Linked DNA regions of Homo sapiens. The protein of the gene in region 3 interacts with the protein of the main gene of each other region in a biochemical or structural test. Each region holds a gene or a part of one and is shown on either strand. Other genes may lie near its edges.

What was found. Proteins that work in one complex are often made in the same cells at the same time.
Region 1: of the proteins of TANK (region 3) and MARCHF5, one has a biochemical effect on the other in vitro, tested with the Homo sapiens proteins (one study listed by BioGRID).
Region 2: the proteins of TANK (region 3) and ZC3H12A form a complex in vitro, tested with the Homo sapiens proteins (one study listed by BioGRID).

Annotation. Positions count from the first base shown.
Region 1 is NC_000010.11:92,308,155-92,315,176, forward strand, and holds part of MARCHF5 (E3 ubiquitin-protein ligase MARCHF5), read left to right. Parts: intron 1-2,980; coding exon 2,981-3,183; intron 3,184-7,022. UniProt on the Homo sapiens protein: Mitochondrial E3 ubiquitin-protein ligase that plays a crucial role in the control of mitochondrial morphology by acting as a positive regulator of mitochondrial fission and as an important regulator of immune response.
Region 2 is NC_000001.11:37,470,150-37,477,589, forward strand, and holds the start of ZC3H12A (endoribonuclease ZC3H12A), read left to right. Parts: upstream 1-4,430; 5' UTR 4,431-4,480; intron 4,481-5,309; 5' UTR 5,310-5,347; coding exon 5,348-5,790; intron 5,791-7,440. UniProt on the Homo sapiens protein: Endoribonuclease involved in various biological functions such as cellular inflammatory response and immune homeostasis, glial differentiation of neuroprogenitor cells, cell death of cardiomyocytes, adipogenesis and angiogenesis.
Region 3 is NC_000002.12:161,155,434-161,163,434, reverse strand, and holds the start of TANK (TRAF family member-associated NF-kappa-B activator), read right to left. Parts: upstream 3,008-8,001; 5' UTR 2,949-3,007; exon of another isoform or gene 2,885-2,948; coding exon of another isoform or gene 2,613-2,884; intron 2,487-2,612; exon of another isoform or gene 2,148-2,486; coding exon of another isoform or gene 2,023-2,147; exon of another isoform or gene 74-2,022; coding exon of another isoform or gene 1-73.

The sequences.
Region 1 (7,022 bases), on a different chromosome or scaffold from region 3:
ATGGTCTCGATCTCCTGACCTCATAATCCGCCCTCCTCAGCCTCCCAAAGTGCTGGGATTATAGGCATGAGCCACCGCGCCCAGCCTATGCTTCCCCTTTCTAGATCATATAGGGTAACTTCGTGACGTTGCCGTGGCATTTGTAAACTGTCATGGTGCTGGTGGGAGTGTAGCAGTGAGGACGACCAGGGGTCACTCGTGAGCATCTTGGTTATGGTGGGTTTTAGCTGGCTTTACTGCAACCTGTTTTATCAGCAGTATCTTTATGACCTGTATTTTGTGCTGACCTCATATATCATCTTGTGACTTAGAATGCCTTAACCATCTGGGAATGCAGCCCAGTAGGTTTCAGCCTCATTTTACCCAGCTCCTATTCAATCAAGACGGAGTTGCTCTGGTTCACATGCCTCTAATACTGCTATTTCAACTGAAAGCCTAACTCCTGATAAGTACGCACTCTGAATCATCATTCAGCTATCTTATTTACCATAGTTGTGAAATTAATTAGAAAAAAAACTGAAAGTGCATAAGTGCGTGCGTTGTTTGTTTTTTGTTTTTTTTTTTTTTTGAGACGGAGTCTTGCTCTGTTGCCCAGGCTGGAGTGCAGTGGCGCGATCTTGGCTCACTGCAAGCTCCGCCTCCCGGGTTCACGCCATTCTCCTGTCTCAGCCTCCTGAGTAGCTGGGACTGCAGACACCCGCCACCATGCCCAACTAATTTTTTTGTATTTTTAGTAGAGACAGGGTTTCACCGTGTTAGCCAGGATGGTCTCAATCTCCTGACCTTGTGATCCGCCCGCTTCAGCCTCCCAAAGTGCTGGGATTACAGGCTTAAGCCACGGCACCCGGCCAAGTGCATGCTTTAAATGTCAGTTCTAAAAAGTAAATCTGTACAAGTATTTAGGACTGAAATATACTGATGCCTGCAACTTTGAAATGCAGCAAAAAATAAGAATAATGAATGGATGTGTGAGAAAGCAAATATAGCAGAATAAGAATTATAGAATCTAAATGTTGGGTATATGGGTAGTCACTGAACAGTTTTTAACTTTTTTTGGAAAGTTTGAAATTTTTCATAATAAAATGTTTGGGAAAAATAAACCTTATCTAGAATTTATAAGGAATATAATAGCTACACAAGTATTCTCATTAGATCAAAATATGAAATTTGACCTATCTTTTCTGTAAGTCAGAAACAGATTAATGTAGACTATTTCAGTTGGTTCAACCTAGTCCTAACATTGTATTTTATTTTTCTGATGACTGAAATTGGATTAATTTAAAATGTGATTCACCATAATACTGATTAATTATGCTGATGTAGCTATTCTTATTTACGTTTGTGTTAAGAAAGTATGAGACTAAAGAGTCTCTAAATATTCTGCCAGTATTTTGTTGCTAAAATGATACATTCCATTTCCTAGATGTATACAAATATGTCCACAAAATTACCTCAGTTGTGGGGAAAAATATATACTAACAACATCTTAACCAGCCTGTGTGCTAGTATACTTACCAATTGAAATTTTATGCAAAAATCATAGGTTAGAACCCAGTCCTACTATGGGTAGTCTTGGTGGTTGCACAACAGTATGAATATACTTACTGCCACTGAATTATACACCTAAAAAATGGCTAAAATGGTAGATTTTATGCTATGTCTATTTGACGATAAAATTTTTTAAAAAAGAACAAAGTATTTTTGGACAACCATAAGACAATGTGAAGGCCCAGACAGCTTAGCTAAAGTGGGTCAAAAGGGTCAGAATGCTAAACAAATGCTACCTACGTTCTAATTTTACTTAGATCTTATGAAACCTGACTGAATTTGAAAGCTGAATAAAACAACTATTTTGGATATTGATGCCCTGGATTCAGTTCAACTTTTTTTCTGTTCTAATTGAAAAATTGTAATTGGAGCACACAATTGAAATTCATGTTGTTCCACAAGGACTGGAGAACCTCACCCATCTATAATACCTGAGTATATAGTCTTTCCCACTGAGCATAGTTAAGCTAGTTGTTCTGACAGAAGCCACTTATCCAATTAATTAAAAAGTGCACAGTAGGTAACATGCTTTAATTAGCAGTTGTTTCCACTTGTACAAGTTCTAATGGAGGGGAGGAGCGAAGGGTCTCATTGAATTGAACTGTATTTGCCCTGATGGAAATCGATGTCAAAACTTGTGTTAATTGGGAGAAAAACTGAGGAATTACAACCTAATTCCACAAGAAAAAATTACAATTCATGAAGTACCCTTAAAAGCAAAGTGGGAAAATGTTTTAAAATTACCGATCTCAATAGAATTTTATTTTTATTAATATAAGCACCCCAGACTTGATACTTCTAGATTTCAGATTTCAAGCATACACGCCCAAATTTATCATATTGCTATTCTAAAAAAAAAAATCTTGATATATTTATCTCCTTTGTGCTTTTTTGAAAATGTAATATTGTTTTCTCTCATGTTTATACTTTACCGGAAAGAAAAATGGGTTTTTTTTTCCTCAGCTGAAAAATGGAATGAGACTGTATGTGAAATCACTCGTGTAATACTTTGTTTTTCCAAGTTCAAGGGATTGGTGGTGGTGAACTGGGGAGAACACTGAATTTAATATATTACTGTGCTTACTATTCCTCAAAGAATTATTAGGTCTTATAACAAAAACAACTTGAGGTTTGTCTCCTTGCACTCTGGTTCATTAGAGAAGGTGAAGAATTACTGAAAAGATAGAGGAGATTACATAAAAACAAAGTTCAGAAAACATAAGTTCTGTAGAGGAAGACAAGGAAAAACAGAAAAAGTAGAAACTGCTCTAGTGGGAATGTATTGGTTGTTTTGTCTCCTTAGTCTTTTAATATAGGACAGAGATTCTGTAATATAACATAGCAGGCTCATCCCATTAAGTAAGAGCTGCAGTATAGAGGAGGCTGGAGTCCTAAAGATATAAATGTCATCCTTTTCTCTTTTAATTTACAGAAGTTGCTGGGTTTGTTTTGCTACTGATGAAGATGATAGAACAGCTGAATGGGTGAGACCATGCAGGTGCAGAGGATCTACAAAATGGGTTCACCAGGCCTGTCTACAACGCTGGGTGGATGAAAAGCAAAGAGGAAACAGTACAGCCAGAGTGGCATGTCCTCAGTGCAATGCTGAATACCTAATAGTTTTTCCAAAATTGGGTAAGAATATCTTTAAAAACAACACAGATATAGTTGATGTTATTATATATAACTTTATAAGTTCATTTTAAAATGAACCACCTCTTTTTTTTAGGGTGTGAATTTCTATATTCCCTTTCTCTTGTTTCCTCTCTGAATGTCAGACATTTATTTCTTTTGCTAACAGTTTACAGTATCCTTAATATATCCCCAAATTTATCCATTTGCCTGTGTATTAACTGTCTGTTTGATAGAAAGGAGAAAGAACTTGCATACCTGTGTGGATATAATTGAATAACAAAGCTCTAATAAAAAGCTGACTTTTAAAAAAAAAACTAACTTAGCTTAATTATCTGGAGACGGTGTAAGAGAAAGAAAGCAGTAGTATGTTCTAATACTTCTCCTTAATTCTTCCTTTTAAGGAATAAAAGTAGAGAAATTAAATATTTAATAAGATGTGACGTTAAACTCATCTTTGGAATCCAATTTATGTGGTTTCTTTCATGAACCCTGCTATCCCTTTTCTGTGAAGTGGCAGGTAAGAAATAACCAAAGATCTTTGAGAACAGGCCTAGCATGGAAAAAAAGTATAGCAGACTGCTTACAAGAAGCATTCTAAGGCTGCTTCTTTAGCAGCAGTATAACTAAGGCTGATATTTAGTGAGCCTGTTCCATTACAGCCATACAGTTATAAATTGGTGTCAATCTCTTGGTTTGGTGTTTATACCATGCCAGTTGTTAAACATTTTTTTATAACCCTTGACTGTAACCAAGAGGTATAGGAAGGCAGCTTGGGTTCTGGGAAGGTCATAAGGAAAGAATGTCTTTGGGGGCAGAGGGAATTCAGGAAAAATTGGAAATAATTATTATATATATTGTTTTTTATAAGTGCTATTCATACTGAAATCAGACCAATGTTTTTGAAAATGTGGCAACATAAATGCAGATAATGAAGTGCTTTTCTAATATGAGAAGATTAATAATAAGGGCAAACAAAATGTCCTTGGTTCTCTGTTTTTCTCTAACATGCACAGGAAGAAATGATAGCTTCCTTTGAAGGGGAAGTAGTGTAGTAGAGAAAGTAGTGTTTTCAAACATTTGGAATTTGTGGACCATGTGATGGGTCTTCAGTGCATACCACTGATTTTAGATAAACACAAAAGAATAATTCAAAATGTTTTTATTGTAAGATCAAAGAAGTATTTTTAAATCAGTATCAGGAAAAGCAATGATTGTTCACATTATTGTACCACCACATGAATGGTGAAAGACTCACTAAAGTCCAAGTTAAGGTTTCATATTTAACTGATTTCTTTTCTTGCTCTTAGTTGTACTAAATTAGATAGCCCCACCTTTGAATTATAGAGTTGGGAAGAGCAACAATTAAATATTTCTATTAGATGTTTTAGATATTCAAATGGACACAAAAATTATTACAAGAATTCTCACTGAAAACTACATCAAGTTGACAAGTGTATGGCACTCGAAAGCAAAGTTGAGTATTTTAATTTTGGAGATGGCAATGTGTAGATCTGTCCTTTTGGTTGAATTCAGTTCTAGGAAATATGTTTTCAGGTTTAGTGCAGTAATTGAATATGGTTTTAAGTCTACCTAGTTGTTAGAAAAGAGTAAATCTTGGCTGGGCGTGGCGGCTCACGCCTGTAATCCCAGCACTTTGGGAGGCAGAGGCGGGCAGATCACGAGGTCAGGAGTTCGAGACCAACCCGGCCAATATGGTGAAACTATGTCTTTACTAAAAATACAAAAGTTAGCTGGACATGGTGGCGTGTGCCTGTAGTCCCAGCTACTCAGGAGGCTGAGGCAGAAGAGTTGCTTGAACCCAGGAGGCAAAGGTTGCAGTGAGCCAAGATCGTGCCACTGCACACAAGCCTGGGCGACAGAGCCGAGACTCCATCTCAAAGAAAAAAGAAAAGAGTAAAACTCTTTGGTTAAGCCATTTGTATCATTATTTAGTCTGCATATTTTGTTACTAAGAATTGTGGCCGGGCCGGGCGCGGTGGCTCACACCTGTAATCCCAGCACTTTGGGAGGCCAAGGCTGGCAGATCACGAGGTCAGGAGATCGAGACCATCCTGGCTAACACAGTGAAACCCCATCTCTACTAAAAATACAAAAAAATTAGCCAGCCTTGGTGGCAGGTGCCTCTAGTTCCAGCTACTCGGGAGGCTGAGGCAGGAGAATGGCGTAAACCCGGGAGGCAGAGCTTGCAGTGAGCCAAGATAGCGCCACAGCACTCCAGCCTGGGAGATAGAGCGAGACGCCGTGCTAAAAAAAAAAATTGTGGCGGGTCACAGTGGCTCACACCTGTAATCCCAACACTTTGGGAAGCTGGGGCGAGTAGATTGCTTGAGACCAGCCTGGGCAACAGGGTGAAACTCCATCTCTACCAAAAATAACAAAAAAAAATTAGCTGGGCATGGTGGCACACACCTGTAGTCCCAGCTACTCAGGAGGCTGAGGTGGGAGGATTGCCTTAGCCTGTGAGGTGGAGGCCACAGTGAGCTGTGATTGCGCCACTGTACTCCAGCTTGGGAGACAGAGTGAGACCCTGTCTGAACAACAAAAAAGAATTGTGGCCAGTCATGGTAGCTCACATCTGTAATCCCAGCACTTTTGAGGCTCAGGTGGGTGGATTGCTTGTGGTTACGAGGTCAGGATCAGCCTAGGCAACATAGCAAAACCTTGTCTCTCTACAAAAAAGAAAAAGAAAAAGAAAAAAAATTAGCCAAGTGTGATGGAGCACACCTGTTGTAAGTCCTAGCTACTCGGGAGGCTCAGCTGGGAGGATCACTTGAGCCCAGGAGTTTGGGGCTGCATTGAGCTATGATTGCGCCACTACCCTCTAGCCTGGGTGACAGAGTGAAACCAATCTTAAATAAAAGAGAGAATTATAATTTTACTCTCAAATGATATGTTCAAGCTGGTCACTATACTGTCTGTCATAGAGGTATGGCACTTGAGTTAGCCGCTTAAAATCATAGATATGTTTTAATGACATCAGTGTTATAAAAAAAAATGAATATCCGCTGGGCACGGTGGCTCACGCCTGTAATCCCAACACTGGGAGGCCAAGGCAGGCGGATCACCTGATATCAGGAGTTCAAGACCAGCTTGGCCAACATGGTGAAACCTTGTGTCTACTAAAAATACAAAAATTAGCCAGGCGTGGTGGCAGGCGCCTGTAATCCCAGCTACTTGGGAGGCTGAGGTAGGACAATCACGTGAACCTGGGAGGCAGAGGTTGCTGTGAGCCAAGCTCACACCATTGCACTCCAGCCTGGGCGACAGAGCAAGACTCTGTCTCAAAAAAAGAAAAAAAAAAGTATATCCTTCATTTGAGTAGGTATTGTTAGCATATTTCCTCTTGACAAAACAGAAAAACAGAGTATTTGCTGCTGCTGCTTCCCCCCGCCCCCCCCCGCCAATAGAGGTTGGGTCTTGCTATGTTGTCCAGGCTTGTCTCAAACTCCTGGGCTCAAGCAATCCACCTACCTTGGCCTCCCAAAGTGCTAGGATCACAGGCATGAGCCACTGTGTGCCCAGCCTGCCGCTGCATTCTTAACATGCTGAAGATACCTATTCAAGGGCTGCAATTTTAATTATATTCACAATTTTCCATGCAGTTATTAACAATGACTCAAGCCAGCTGTTGTCTGTAAATGAAGCCATGTGTGAATTGGCTTTCAGGTGGTGGGCTCTTCATTGCTGCACACAAAGCTAGTGCTCTAGCTATGCTGATTCCAGCACAACTTTTCAATTCAAGTTTCAAAAATAATTGTTGGTTAAAAGAAAATATCTTCTTCTAAAACTTTTAAAAAGTTGCTTGTATTTCTTGATTA
Region 2 (7,440 bases), on a different chromosome or scaffold from region 3:
CTAGAGGAGAAACAATCTGCATTCATTATTGGAAATTCTTCTGTAAGGAAGACTTGCCTCTTCTCCCCCAGTAGGTTATTGATTCAACAATTTATTTATATCAGGGCTGGGTATGGTGGCTCATGCCTTTAATCCCAGCACTTTGGGGGACCAAGGTGGAGGACTATTTCCGGCCAGGAGTTCAAGACCAGCTTGGGCAACATAGCGAGATCCCCATCTCTACAAAAAAAATTTTTTTAATTTGCCAGGCGTGGTGGTGCACAACTGTAGTCCTAGCTACTCAGGAGGCTGAAGCAGGAGGATCGTTTAAGCCCAGGAGTTCAAGGTTACAGTGAGCTATGATCACGGCACTGCACTCAAGCCTGGGCGACAGAGCAAGACCCTGGCTCTGAAAACAAAAAAATTATTTATATCAGTATAAATATTTATTTTATACTTTAGGTTATAATTCAATATTATCCTATTATTTATTCCCTTGCTCAGTTGCTCCAGCTTTGGCCATAGGGAGCTCTTCTGGCTCCTGGATCCCTTTGACGCACTCCCATCCTTTTGTGTTTTGAGCGCTTCCTAAATCCCTGGCACCACAGCACACTGCCGGCTCATCCTTTCCCTGTCCCAGCCCTAAAATCAGCCATCTCTCCAAGGAAATAATGTATTTTTAATACAAGTTCTCCAATTATCTTGTCAATAGTCCAAATATATTGCACCGCATTTGAATGCATGATTTAAAAAAAAAAGAGTTAATTTGTTCAGTTACCGTTTAAAACATACATTGATTTTTGTAGCCCTGCTGTGACATGTCTTTTTGAAATATACCAGGAGTCTGGCCGGGAGCAGTGGCTCATGCCTGTAATCCCAGCACTTTGGGAGGCCAAGGCGGGCGGATCACGAGGTCAAGAGATCGAGACCATCCTGGCTAACACGGTGAAACCCCGTTTCTACTAAAAACACAAAAAAATTATCCAGGTGTGTTGGCAGGCACCTGTAGTCCCAGCTACTGGTAGTCCCAGCTACTCGGGAGGCTGAGGCAGGAGAATGGCATGAACCTGGGAGGCGGAGCTTGCAGTGAGCTGAGATCGCGCCACTGCACTCCAGCCTGGGCGACAGAGCCAGACTCCATCTCGAAAATAAAAAATAAAAAGAAATATACCAGGAGTCTCAAACATGGGAGGGATCTGGTCCTTTCTTCACTTCTAGGAGGCCTTGTTGAATTTAAACATCACCTCAGCAGCCACTCCCTTAAGGCTTGAGGGCAGCCTGCCCAGCCTTTCTACAGAGGTAGCCCAGTTCCCGGGTCCTCCCCAGGCTGAGCTGCCCAGTGAAGCAACTGAAAGCCAAGGTCATTCCTGGGACCTTTCCCTCTCCAACCTCATCTCCCAACCCCCCACCACCCTCAGGCAGTGACCAGTCCACAAGCTTTGCAGACCCCACCTACGCTGGCTGGGCACAGGCAGATAGATGGTGGGAGGCCAGGCAGGCTCCAAGAAGGAAATTAGCCAGCCCAGCTGCCAAGACAGGCATACGAGAGGCAGAGGGGTTTGTGTGGGCTCGGCTTCAGAGAACTCCTGGGGATTAGGGCCAAAGTTTGCAAAATCCAGCTGTAAACGGAGCAGGGGTTCCCCAAAGAAGCCGTGGGTTCTGTAGAGGAGAGTCGGCTTCTTGGGAAGTAGCATGAGCCGGAAGACAGCGAGACTGTGGCTCTCTCTGGGAGGGCAGGGAGCAGCATGACTCATCGCCTAGTCCTGCTGGCTCCTACTGGCACAGGGCTGGGCAGCAGAGGGTCTGGGAGCAGGAGCAGAGTCTGGTCTTGTTGCAGCTCCAGAGGAGGTCTCAGGCTGGCAAAGACAATCTAACACGTTGGGACATAGGCAGGGTGTTGTGGGGACACTTAGGAGGGTACAACCAGCATCAAAGGAGTCTTGGCTGGCCTCACAGAGGAGGTGACATCATCCAAAAGATGAATGGAACTGGCTAGGAAGCAGCTGGGTGGGAGAGAGGGAAGGGCACTCCAAGCCAAGGAAGAAGCAGAGCAGAGGCCCGAAAGTGTCTGCAAGGCGCTAGCTGGTGCCTGCCACCCAGTGAGCACTCTATAAATGGGAGGCATTATCTCTATGATTGATTAGTATTGTCATTATCATTATTAACCTGGACACATCACTTAATGTTTTTACTATCTTAAAGGTAGTTGCTATAGCGAATAAATGCTTAACATAACTGAGCTCTTCTCATCTGTAAAAGGGACTGTTGTGAGGTTAGGGGTGCCGCCGGCACCGCACTCAGCTGGAGTGACAGCAAGCATGTGAGGTGCCCAGCATGGGATGTGAGCTGGCATGCAGCAGGGGGCCTTGTGTTTCCTCTCTCCTTGGGTTGCCAAGCCCCTGGAGCTGCTGTGCCTGGGGAGCAGAGAAGGGGACACTTTGGGGTCTTCAAAGATGACCAGGCAACAAAGCAGGAACACCGCTAGGTAAGAGCAAGCAAGCCCAGAGGAACAGCCTCAGGGTCCAGATAGAGACGTACACGCCTGCCTCCCTGGGGTCTTTGGTGGCCTCCCGAACAAGCAGGTGTGGATGGGGAGATGGACTGCCTTGGAGAGAGCTACATGAGTTCCAGCTCCACCAGCCCCCAGAGCCTGAGCAGGTGACTTCACCTTTCTGAATCTCTGAACATCCATTTCCTCCACTGTACAATTTCATTAAGATACATACAAGAATATCCAAAGCACAGTCTTTGTAATAGAAAAAAAATCCTAGAAACAACATCCAACAGCAGGTGACTGAATAAGTAACCAGTGGTATATTCATAAAATGGGACACTATTCAGTAGTAAAATAAATTACAGGTATGCAGGCAATCAAAATGGATTTTTAAAAATATAATGCTGTATGAAAAAGGAAGTCACATAATTATGGAATGACTCCGTTTACACAAAGTAAAAAATAGCAAAACTATACAATATCCCACTTAGGGATGCATACAGAGGTGGTAAAACTACAAGAAAAAGCAAGAGAATGACTAGCACAATTAAAGTTCAGGAAACTAGTTCTTCAGGATGTGGGCAGGAGGCTGTGATGGGGGCACCCAGAGGGCCTCAAGGTACTGGCACTGGTCTATTTTTTAAGTTAGGTGATGGATACATGGCTTTTTTATTATTACTATTATTCTTTAAGCTGTACATGTACAGTTGTGTCTATGGTGTCTTTTACAATAAACAAGTATTTATTATAACACTAGCACTTATAGGATACATGCCTATGATGAGGTAGAGAGAATGTAACAAAGGACTGGCACATAGTAAGCACTGGTGGCATGTGGCTCTGTCCTCCAGCGTGTGGGCTCTGTGTTTTCTCTCTCTCTCTCTCACTCACACACACGCACGCACACACACACACACACATAGGAAGCCAGGCTCCCCTCTGCCCTCAGTCACTCGTGGTTCACAAAAATGGCAAATAATAGGAGCACTAGAATAGGAGCTCTCCATCCTGGTTCGAGTCTTTCCAGCTGGGGCAGTTTAGCCTTTGCAGAATTTCTCAAGGGTAACATCAGCATAATGACCTCTGTCTGTAAGCCCGTGAGTGTAAGCCTGTAAAGTGCTGTGCTCATGCGAGGGATCAGGTCTGACCTGGGAAACTAAAAGCATCTTCATGGAGCAAGGGTGCTCCTCCAGTGGGGGCGCTCAGTGAGTTCTGCGGTATGGGTGACAGTATTCTTGTGTGGACAGTATTCATGTGGTGATTGGGGTAAATGGCCCTCTTTTGCCTGGTTTTCTGCCTCGGTCATTGTGCATCTGCTGACTGAACCTGCCTTTTGGTCCTAGTAAAGTACAGATTTCAGGAAAAGTGTACCTGGCCCCGGGGGTGGCCAACCTCTGTGTGACGGCTTTAAGCACAGTGTGTCTTGAGGGGGCCTGACTCCATCTGAAAAGTGCCTGTCTGGATGTACCTGTCTATAACCATGGACCTGCCTCCAAGGTGCGTGGACCAACCTCCGCGTACCTGATTCACTCGATGCGCACCTGGCCGTACGTAGCTTCATCAGGCAGGGTGTACCTGTCAAGTTCTTAGGTCCGAGTGTTCGCGGCTTTACCTGTCCTGGTACCGCCGTCCGCACCTCGGTCAGTGCGTCCCCGGCAGGTGCGTGTACCTGATTCAGTCCGTGCTTATCTTGCGCATACGGGCCGTTCAGTGTCCCGCTCGGAGCTCGTCGCCGCCGCAGCCTTGAGGCTCCGACCCCCGCTTGGGCCCCGTCCGGCGCGCAGCGGCCGCGGGGGCGGGGCCGCGACGCGAGGAGCGGAGCAGGAAGGGGCGAGGCAGCCCCGCCCCCGGGGCGGTCTCCCGGGACGGCCCCGCCCCTTGCCCGCTTCCGCGTCAGTGCCTCACCACCACCTGCCCGCGCGCCGCCCCATATAAAGGCGCCGCCGTCCTTACCCCCAGGACTCGGCCCCATGGAGACGCCGCCGGCCGCCGCTGGCGCATGGCGGGGTGAGGCGCGGCGGGGAGGGTGCGGGCCTCGGCGGGGAAGCGGCAGGGAGCGCTCCGGCGGGGTCCGAGCCGAGCCGAGGGGAGGGGACGGGAGGGGACGGGAGGGGTGGAGAGGGGAGGGGACGGAAGGGTCGGGGTCCTGTTCCCCGGCCCGCCGGGCCTCAGGACCCCTCCAACTTTGCCCAAGTTGGGAGAGCCGGGGAAGAGCACCAGGTTCCTGATCGGGATCGCGGGCCGAGCAAGCGCGGGTCTCGGGCCGGGACAGCCTCGGCGTCACCAGCTCCCGGCAGCCAACCAAAGTTTTCCAGCAACTTTTCTCCCCACGGGTCACCCCAGAAACTTGCCCTCCCCGGCTCCGGGAGTCCGGCCATGGGCCTTGCGCTGCCTGGGCCTGAGCTCTGAGTGCCGGACGGGTGGGCGAAAGTGGTGGCCTCAGTGGGGAAGCCTTGGGCCCCGCAACGCACTTCCAGCCCCAGGATTCCATCTGAGAGCCCCGTCCCTGCCTTCTGGGTCCCCTGGGTTGGCGTGGGGGTTCGAGGCTTTACAGCTGGGGTAGTTCCAGTCTTAGTTCAGACTAAGTTCCGATCTTCGAGCCACCAGCTAACAGCTGGATGACCTTGAGCACGTTTTTAATGTCTGTGCCTCAGTTTCTCCCTTTATAGAATGGGAATGGGAATGCCTAGCTGGGAGAGCTTTTGAGAGGACAACCTGAACTAATAACACGATGCAGTGTGTAGTGCCACCAATCCCTCATCCTGCTGGATGTGGTTTTGGGAGGGAGGTTAGGAGAGAGCGCTATTCACCGTCCCTAACCCTGTTGGTTGTTCAGTAGGAGCTGTGGCGCGGGGCCTTCCAGGAGTCTGAGCTATGAGTGGCCCCTGTGGAGAGAAGCCTGTCCTGGAAGCCAGCCCCACCATGAGTCTGTGGGAATTTGAGGACAGCCACAGCCGTCAGGGCACCCCAAGGCCGGGTCAAGAGCTGGCCGCTGAGGAGGCCTCGGCCCTGGAACTGCAGATGAAGGTGGACTTCTTCCGGAAGCTGGGCTATTCATCCACGGAGATCCACAGCGTCCTGCAGAAGCTGGGCGTCCAGGCAGACACCAACACGGTGCTGGGTGAGCTGGTGAAACACGGGACAGCCACCGAGCGGGAGCGCCAGACCTCACCGGACCCCTGCCCTCAGCTCCCTCTAGTCCCGCGGGGTGGTGGCACCCCTAAGGCTCCCAACCTGGAGCCTCCACTCCCAGAAGAGGAAAAGGAGGGCAGCGACCTGAGACCAGTGGTCATCGATGGGAGCAACGTGGCCATGAGGTAAGTGTCACTTCTGTGGCCAGGACACATGAGGTTCGCATCTCTCCTGTGGCCAGGACACATGGAAGGATGACTGTCTCTGCAGCTCTGGTGGGCTGGAAGAAGTGACTTCCTTCTTAGGGACTGGTCTAGAGGGAGGGAAAGCCTTTTATGAGGCTAGGGTCGCGCTACTGGTAAGTGACAGAGGCAGGGTTCCAGCCCAGGTCCCTCTGTCCGCAGAGCTTACCTTATGCTGTGGGTCCCTCCCTGAGGCCAGCACTGTGTCTCCACTCCTCTCCTGTAATGTGAGGCAGGGCTGTAAAGGGGACCAGCCCGTGGGCAGCTGCTCACTCACCCCTCGGAACCTGATCTCAGGTGGGTGTTGTGAGGAGGGAGTGTGCGGATCCCGGAGAGGAGCAAGCGTTCAGGAACCATAGTAGTGGTAGTAGGCAGTGGTAGTAGCAGTTGTTGTTGTTATTTCAGGGGCTGGGCTTCTGAGGCCTTCTTGTCTCAGACCTGGGCTCCCACGAAAACAGGTCCAGTGACTGTGTCCAAGAGTGACCTCAAGGCTGGGTCCAGCTTTACATGGGTTGTGGGCAGGTGGCCTGATGCTCTGGCCTCAGGCGAGCTGCAACTTGGATCCCTACTGACTCAGCTGAAGCAGCCTGGGCTGGACCAGTCTCTGGAGGTTCCCCGGGGCCAGAGCCAGGACTCAGCCCCCAGTGACTCCCACCCCCATCCCCCAGCACAGGAATGGGGTGGGGAGGTAGGGGCAGAGAGGGAAGCCAGGGCTGCTGCTGACCTTGGGAAACCCAGACTTCTCCCGTCAATCCAGGCTCCACCCTCTGGCCCCACTTTTTTCCCAGTTCCCTCCAAGGCAGGCTGATGAGTCAGTGCTGGGTGGATGGCTCACAGGGAAAAGTTCCTGTTGGCATGGACGGGGAGACCCCAGACACAGGGTTGAGAAGGGATGATTTTCTGGCTGCCCTGAGGGAGCTCCTAGGTGGGCTGCCCAAGGCTGGCATGACATCAGCCTCTGCCCTCCCTAATTTGTGGCCCCTGTGGGACAAGTTCACTGTCCAGCTGGCCCTGGCCCAGCTCAGCAGGCATGCAGCTGAGTGCTCTTCCCTCCTTCTGTCACCTTCAGGCCAGTCTTCCTCTCTCTGACTTGGGCTGAGCCTGGATGGGAGGCTGAGAAAATCCAGTTTCCATGCCAAGAGGCAGCAGGTCACAGCCCATGCTTCGAGATTAGAAGGGGTCCCTCTCAGTGTCCAGCCTCATGTAGCTGGGCTAGGAGCTAGGTTGGATCTGTGTGACTCCTTCCTCTGGAGGTATGGGCCAGGAGCGGCTGAGCCCTGGGAGCAGCCATATGCAGTATGTGTTTGTATCCAGAAGGAGGAGGGACATGGGAGGAGGGGCTGTGATGAGGGGTGCTCAGAGGAGCCTGCTCCTGAGAAGCAGAGCCACGCACCCACCTCGGGGGTTTCTGAGCTGGGGTAGTGGCAGGAGGGGAATTCCAGCCTCAAACTTCCTGTCTCAGCTGCTACTCGGTTCCTGCCCGGCCACCCCCCCTCCCCAGGGGCAGGCGGGCTAGCCCCCCCATCATATGCAAATCATGGGGAAATTCACCTCTGTTTCCTTCTAAGGGAATTTTTTTCCACTCGCCAGGCC
Region 3 (8,001 bases):
CCATGAAAAAAAAGTTGTGTGTAGGGGGGAAATAACCAGCATCAGTACAGCAGCTGTTCTTAGTTCTTGACATTACCGTGTCCCAGACTCTTTCATTCAATTGTATTTACTCCAAGGAGTTTTTGTTTGTTCTGAACCATTTTGCTGAGTATTGTTGCTGTCTTAAGAACAATGAACTCCCAGACCCACATGGTTTCATGAGTGAATTCTTTCAGATCTTCAAAGAGCAGAGTTCTTAGGCTATTTAAACTACATCAGAGCGGAGGAAGAGGAACTCTGCCCAGTTCTTTTTAGGAACCAGCATAACCTTGATACCAAAACCTAGCAAAAATAACAGAAAAAGGTGAGTATAAAATGAATCTCAATCATTGATTTTAAATAAAAATGCTACCAAAGGAACCAATATATACTTAAATATTACACCATGACCAAGCGTAAGATTGGTTCACAAACTGCAAATATACTAAAGTAATTCACTATCCTGTTAGGTCAAAGATGAAAAGTACCTATGAAAGGTTATGATAGATGTCAAAAAGCCATTTGACAAAATCCAACTTCCATTCCTGATAAAAATGTTAAGAAGTAATGAATATACACACCAAATGAACATCCAATATCTATTATTTAAAATTGTTCTCAAAGTGCTATCTAATACAATAGACACTCCCCATCCCCAGTTGCAAAAATGACTTTGGATGCAATCCAAACAGTTCTCTGCAAAAATCACAATGAGCTAGAAATATTAAAGGAAACTTCCCTGATAAATATAATTTATTAGATATTAATAGTAACTTCATATTTAATGATGACATAATAAAAACATCCCCAAACTAAGAAACAAGATAAAGGATGGCCAGAATCACTGTTTTATTTACCACTATTCTGGGGAAGCCAGCAATTCACTAAAGCAAAGAAAGAAAGAGATAAGATGAATTATAATTAGATGATTGTTTTCCTAGAAAATTCAAGTGAAACAATTTATTAAAATTAATAAATTTAGAAAGTTGGCCAGATACATAAACACTCATCTACATACCAGTCACAAAATATAAGAAAATATAATGGTTAAATCCCAAAAAGAGTATTTTAATGAAGCATGAACAGTTTATGTTAAATTTTATCTCAAAGATAATGCAATTATATTCAAGAAAATTTTGAAAAGGAAAAATGAAGAGGGACTTGTCCTATGAATTACTAGAAAACGTAATATCAAAGCAGATTGGTATTTTTAAAGGAAGAGACAAAAAGATCAAAGCAACAGATGAGTCTAAAGAAAAGATGCATGTACACTTGAGAATTTACTATATTAAGGAGGTATTTCTAGTCAGTTGGGAGAGAAATGATTTCAACAAATGATTTCAGGAAAAAATGGCTGCCTAGTCATAAAAACAAAGAAAAAAATTAAATCCTTATCTTAGCATACAAAAATCATTTTCAGATGTTTTAATGAGTAAATCATAAAAAGAGAATTAACAGGCAATATAGGAGAAGATTTTAAGAATTTTTGAGTGGGGACTACCTTCTTACCTGAGATAAAAAGCCTGGGCATTTTAAACCAAAGCATTGATAATTCTTGAAAATATTTGCCATATATTTCACAAAGGATTAATGAAATCTGTAGTCTAATGAGAAACAGATAATTTTGAAGAATACTGGGCAATATATACGGACAGGACATAGTAAGTGACAGTTAACTATAATTTGGTACATCTACACAATGCAGTACCACGCCAACATTACAATAAAATAGAGCTACATATGGCAAGACTTTCACCATATATATATATTTAATCTGAAACAGATTATCGAACAGTATGCATAATCTCATTTTCATAAGAAAGCAAAATAACATGGTTATGCACATACAGGAAAGATGTGGAAGGCTTGGATTACAACTGGGGAGAGGACTGAGAAGGATTTCACTTCCTGCTTTGCACATAGTTGTATTATTTGAGGATCCCTCCTCTCTCAAATGAGGACACAATAATTTTTAACAGAATGCACTGCTTGCTTCTCTGCTACCTCTCGTTTGGGTGTGTATTCCAACCGCGGTAAGAAGGCAGGTCATTTTCTTTTCCTTCAATTTCACGTCGCTTCTTCACTTCCTTTACTACCATCTCTCCCTTATTATAACTTGTCAAAAGCATCTCCTGTGAGGTGAGATAAACACCACTTTACATAGCAAGGCTGCTTTACTTTTGCTCGTTATAGCATAACAATAAAGGCACAGCTCTTCTTTGATTATCCTCCCCCTTTCTACTTCTAGAAAAGCACAGCTTTTTTGCCTGTAACTCGTTGCTAGTCAGTTTACACCGGCGTGAGGACTCTACCTAACGCCTGGGTTCCCACTGTGGGCGGGGTTGGCTTCTGTTCTTCCTGCCTTGGCCACCCACTCCCTCCGTGACCCTCTGGGAAGTTACCCAACTTCTCATTGACCAGGCTATGATGACACCCCACAGGAAGGCAGAGGGGAATTGTGCAACCACCTTGGGAAAACAACAGAAAGAACCAATTAAGTTTTCGAAAGAGTAACCACGATACTACTTGATTCTAGGAGGCAGTCTCTCTCCCGAAGGGAAGTCGGGAATGTTCCTGGAGGGTCCACTGCTCACCTCGACACCGCAGGCCCTTCCACCCCCATTTCCCGGGCAAAGCAGCCGGGACGAGTCCCTCCCTTGAAGCCGTTGGGGCAGAGGCCGACGATGCTATGCTGACATCGCGGGCCCGGAAACCAACCCACAAGGAGTCCGCTCCGGGGGAAGGACTCGCGTGGTTTCTCCCGCACAAAATCCCTCCCCAAACTGCAAATTGGTTGTCTCCGCTGCTCCTCGGCTTCTCTCCCTGCGGCGCCCCTACTGTCAGCGCGTCCCTCTCGCTCACGCATACAAATTCTCCGACGTCGTGCTTGACGGATTCGGACACACCAATTCACAAAGTTTCTTACTCACACAGTTCACGCTTTCAGCTGCGTTCCCTCTCCCCTCAGGTCGCCGGCGCCTGGCCGAGTGACTCCAACCGGAAGTTGCATTTTGTTCCAGTTCAGAGGGCAGTGCCTGCGCGCGGAGCCATTAACTCTTCACCTCCACCCAACAAGGCCAGGGCCCTTCCGCCCTGCCCCACCCAGCCCAGGGCTCTTCTGCCCCGCCCCTGCCCGCCCCGCCTAGCGCCCTCCCCCAGCCCTGCCCAGCCAAGTCCCCGCCTCTTAGAAAAAAAAAGCGTCAGCAGCGGAAGAGAATCCTATGTCAAGTGTAAAGGTCACTTGTGAGTCTTTGCTGGATTTTTTTGCCAAACGATAAATAACCGGTAAATAAATAACCAGTAAATAAATAACATCACCCTATATATGAGTTAGAGTACACAAGAATCACCTGAGAAACAAAATGTAGTTTCACCAACCGACTCCTACAGCTTTCATTTCAGAGCAACTGGAGTGAAGCCCAGGAACCTGCATTTTCAACAGATCCTCGTAAATTTATGTAATTAAACGTGGTTAAAGTCCACACTCTGAGAAACACTACATATACACATACCCATTTGGTTTCTCCCCAACTGGTAGTATTTTTCACTAAATGTATTTGTTAAAGAGGAATGGCTGGAAATGGAGGTGGAACTTTATTAGAAAATTTCCCATGAATTAAGACTTTCCCATTATTCCAATTCCTAGCCATGCATGAATATTATCTAAGATTCATATCTTAGATACCGCAAGAAAGATATCTTTTCCCTTTAGGGCAAGAGGATGAGGTCTGGCTGCCCCAATTTCTCCCTGTATTTCTGAATCATGGATGTTTACACATCTTTCCTTAGGCCAGTAAGTCCAAGGATTTAAAAACCTGCCAAGTTGCAGTGCATTCTGTCTAGTTATCTTGAATGTTGCTGTATACTTTTAAAAGTCAAAGCCTAAATATATTTGAAACAATGTTTTTAACAAACAGAAACTTCTTATATATAACGTTTTGACCAGTTGAATAGTTTTCTTGTAATAAGTAATTGAGTTAAACATCACAATACAGTACTGCTTTAAAAAAATTATTTAAACTTTTTTTGAGGGCAGTTTTAGATTCACAGCAAAATGGAAAGGAATGTCCAGAGATTTTCCATATACTTTCTGCCCCGACACAAGCATAGCCCTTCCCCATTATCAACATCCCTCACCCCAGTGTGATGAAAAAAAGCTGTTATAAATATCTGTGTGCAGGTTTTTTTGTGCGGACATAAGTTTTCATCTCCTTTGGATAAATACCAAGTAGTATGATTGCTGGATCATAAGGTAAGAGAATGTTTAGTTTTGTAAGCAATTGCCAAATTGTCTTCCAAAGTGGCTACCATTTTGCATTCCCACCAGGAATGAATAAGAGTTCCTGTTGCTCCAAATCCTTGCCAGCATTTGGTGTTGTAAGTGTTCTGGATTTTGGCCATTCTAATAGATGTGTGTCATATTTTATTGTTGTTTTAATTTGCATTTCCCTGATGACATATGACGTGGAGGATCTTTTCATATGGCTATTTATTTACCATCTGGTTAACTTCTTTGGGGAGGTAAAGGCCTTTGGCCCATTTTTTAATCAGGTTGTTTTCCAAATGTTGAGTTTTAAGTGTTCTTTGTATTTTTGATAAGTCCTTTATCAGATATGTCTTTTGCAAAAAATTTTCTCCTTGTCTGTGGCTTGTCTTTTTACTCTCTTGACAATATCTATTGCAAAGCAGAAATTCTTAATTTTGATGAAGTCCAGTTTATTCAGCACTGCTTGAGCAAATTAAATAAGCTGATTTGAAGATTTCTGATTGAAATAGTGGAATTTAGTAATATACTCAGAGTCTAAAGCTGAATGCATAGGCATTTTGAAATATGGAGGTGCTAAAAACTTTGAATAAGGAAATAGCTAGATATACACATTTCTTAAATGCGTATTTTTCTCTTTCCACTTCCATGATGTTGTAGTCTTGAAGAGAAGTGGCTGCATAATTCCCCTGTATGTGAAATATGCATAAATGCTGGTAGAATTATTTTGTAATCAATGCTAAAATGGCATCAAACATTTTCCTTTTCCTATAATGATGATTTTTTAAGAATTCACATACAGTATGTTTTACAAAGGTTAGAAATTGAGTTGACATTTATTTGAGGAATAATCTTTTAAAATAATGACATAATTTTATTCCAATTTTCCTTCACTCATATTATTATATACCTCAAGTTAGTGAGCAGTGATGTGGCTTTGGAGGTTGGGTATGGTGGCATGAAAATGGGGAACTGACCAGGTGTGGTGCTCACACATATAATCCTAACACTTTGGGAGGCCAAGGGCAGAGGATCACTTGAGCACAGGAGTTTCAGACCAGCCTGGGCAACATAGTGAGACCACGTCTCTATTTAATAATATTAATTAATGAATTATTATTAAAAGAAAATGAGGGAATTGCAGGCCTTTAAAAGATATTTTGGAACCTGGACGGGTGCAGTGGCTCACGCCTGTAATCCCAGCACTTCGGGAGGCCAAGGCGGGCTGATCACTTGAGGTCAGGAGTTTGAGACCAGCCTGGCCAACATGGTGAAAACCCGTTTCTGCTGAAAATACAAAAATTAGCCAGGTTTGGTGGTGCACACCTGTAATCCCAGCTATATGGGAGGCTGAGGCAGGAGGATCACTTGAACCCGGAAGGCAGAAATTTCAGTGAGCCAAGATCACGCCACTGCACTCCAGCCTGGGCAACAGAGAGAGACTCTGTCTCAAAAATATTTTGAATCCTAGTTTTAAAACTGCTTAATAATTTATTGAGACTTCTGAATATAAACCTAAGGACAAGGAAACCTGGCAATATAAACAGTTACTATGACTTGGAATGTCAGTTATGTTCTCAGTCAAATCTTTGATGTGCAATATCACTATTAATGGAATCTGGTTGACTTCTGATTTACGATGACATCTGGACTGGCTGATTATATTGCAGACTCTCCAACTAAAATGGCTATGAAAAATCAGAAAAACATGAGAACTCACAATGGCCTTGGAAGGCAGACTGACAACCAGGGCCACTGTGTATGGTTGAGCAGGCTGTGCTCAGTTGCAAAGCCTTGCCTCCTTCAGCCTGTGTCTTCTCAGAGAGGTGCTTTTTCTAACTCACAGAAAAGTACCATAAGAGCAGCTATAACCCTGTTGACAAGCACCCTAGTTCCAGAATTTGATAGGATACTGGACTTATTGCAAGAACTGTGAAGCTGAAATGGACATGTACTTTTTTGTTGGAAGGCAATCAAAGGTGTTGGTATGGAAGGATAGTAAGGAAGCTACCTGCCTCACGGCCCCTACTAGTAATTCCACTACTATGTGTGATGGCTAAGAAGTATTTTACACCTCTTTGCCCTAATCTCTCCCATTAGTTTCTCCACTCTATGACCCATTTTGGAGCTACGGCCTAGAGAATACCAGCAATAACCCAAAGGGAGTGGATAGGTGTAATGCTCTGTGTCCAAGCTTAGGAAACTAATAATGAAAGGGGTTGGGCAGACAGAACTGGGTGTTTGTTTCTCTGGGGGTTTACTTTTTCATATATGGTTCTTATCAAGAAAAAGACAAATCATTGTTTCTGATTAACCAGGAATTCTTCTCTTTATAGTAAAATAACTAGCTATTAAAGGTAAGGAATCTCACCTCAGCCCAACACCCGCAGTGACAAAGTTGATAAATGTCAGCTTCAAACCAAAAAGTTAGCTGTTGACTGTGCATGTCTATATGTCTTCCAGTTCAACATCTATGCTGAAGAACTTAATAGCATCAGACAGATAATGAGAAGAGCCAAGAACCAAAATCCACACATTCAGGTAGTAAGGTTGACACAAGGCTTGGAACGAGTAATTCAAGAGAAAGCATCCCTTTGAAAAGATTATGCTGTCTGAAAGAGAGTCTTCAAAATACAAAGAAAGTGAATACTTTGGAAAATTATTTACCAGAAGCAGAAGTATATGGAGAGAATCTGCTTTGTATTTTCTATGCAAAAAGAGATGAAATACATGATAAGCTATTAGACTAAGATAAGGAGGGAACTAGAGACAAGGTGAAATAAAACCAAAGTTGGATAAGTTAAGTCTGTAAGGACACAGAACAACATGCAATGGCAAAATTCACATATAATTTGGACATAATCAAAGATGGAATCAGTATTGCAGAATAATAAATCAATGATTAGAGTAAAAGCTTGAAAAACTCTTCCAAAATATGACTGGAAAGTACAAATAGGTGACAACCATTAAAGGAAATGGTAGAAAGATTATGCCCCAACTTCTTCCTGAAGAAGAAATTGGGGTAAATAGAACAGAGACGGCAACCACAGATATATCAGAAGCTATCTGAAGTAATACTTTGAACCAATACAATACTTTGTAAAAATGAAAAGGACTCAATGTGTTTTGAAATATATTAATGACCTATCTTGTTAAAAATTTCAATATTAAATGCCCTATCAAGTCATTAATTTAATCAGTGAATATTTTGGGAATATTTGCTATGTGCTAAGAATTAGGGATAGAAAGATCACTAAGACACTGTCCTACCTTTAAAGAACTTGGTGTCTATACTGGGTGACATACATACAAGAATCAGGCAATTACTATACAATGTGGTATTATGATTTTTACATTAGGGGTAATATATGGTACTCTGAAAACACATTGGAAAGTCCATCATCCAGCCTTGAGAGGGTGAAGGAAGGCTTCTGGTATCTAAGTTATGGAAAAAGTTCGACAAGAATCCAGGTGGAAAAAAAATTAATTGCAAAGGAAGAAAAACTTGTCTTCAGCAGTAAACTTCAAAAGCTGAATAGAATAACATCTACAGTTGCCTGGGAAAGATTTGACCTATAGTGTCTGCCTACTCAAGTTATCATTTATTCAAGAAAAGGAAAACAAAGACATTCTCAGATACCTCAAGGTTCAAACATCATACCACCCATTTTCTGAAACAATTGAAGATATGCTTCCCTTATTCGAGAAGGAGTCAAAAT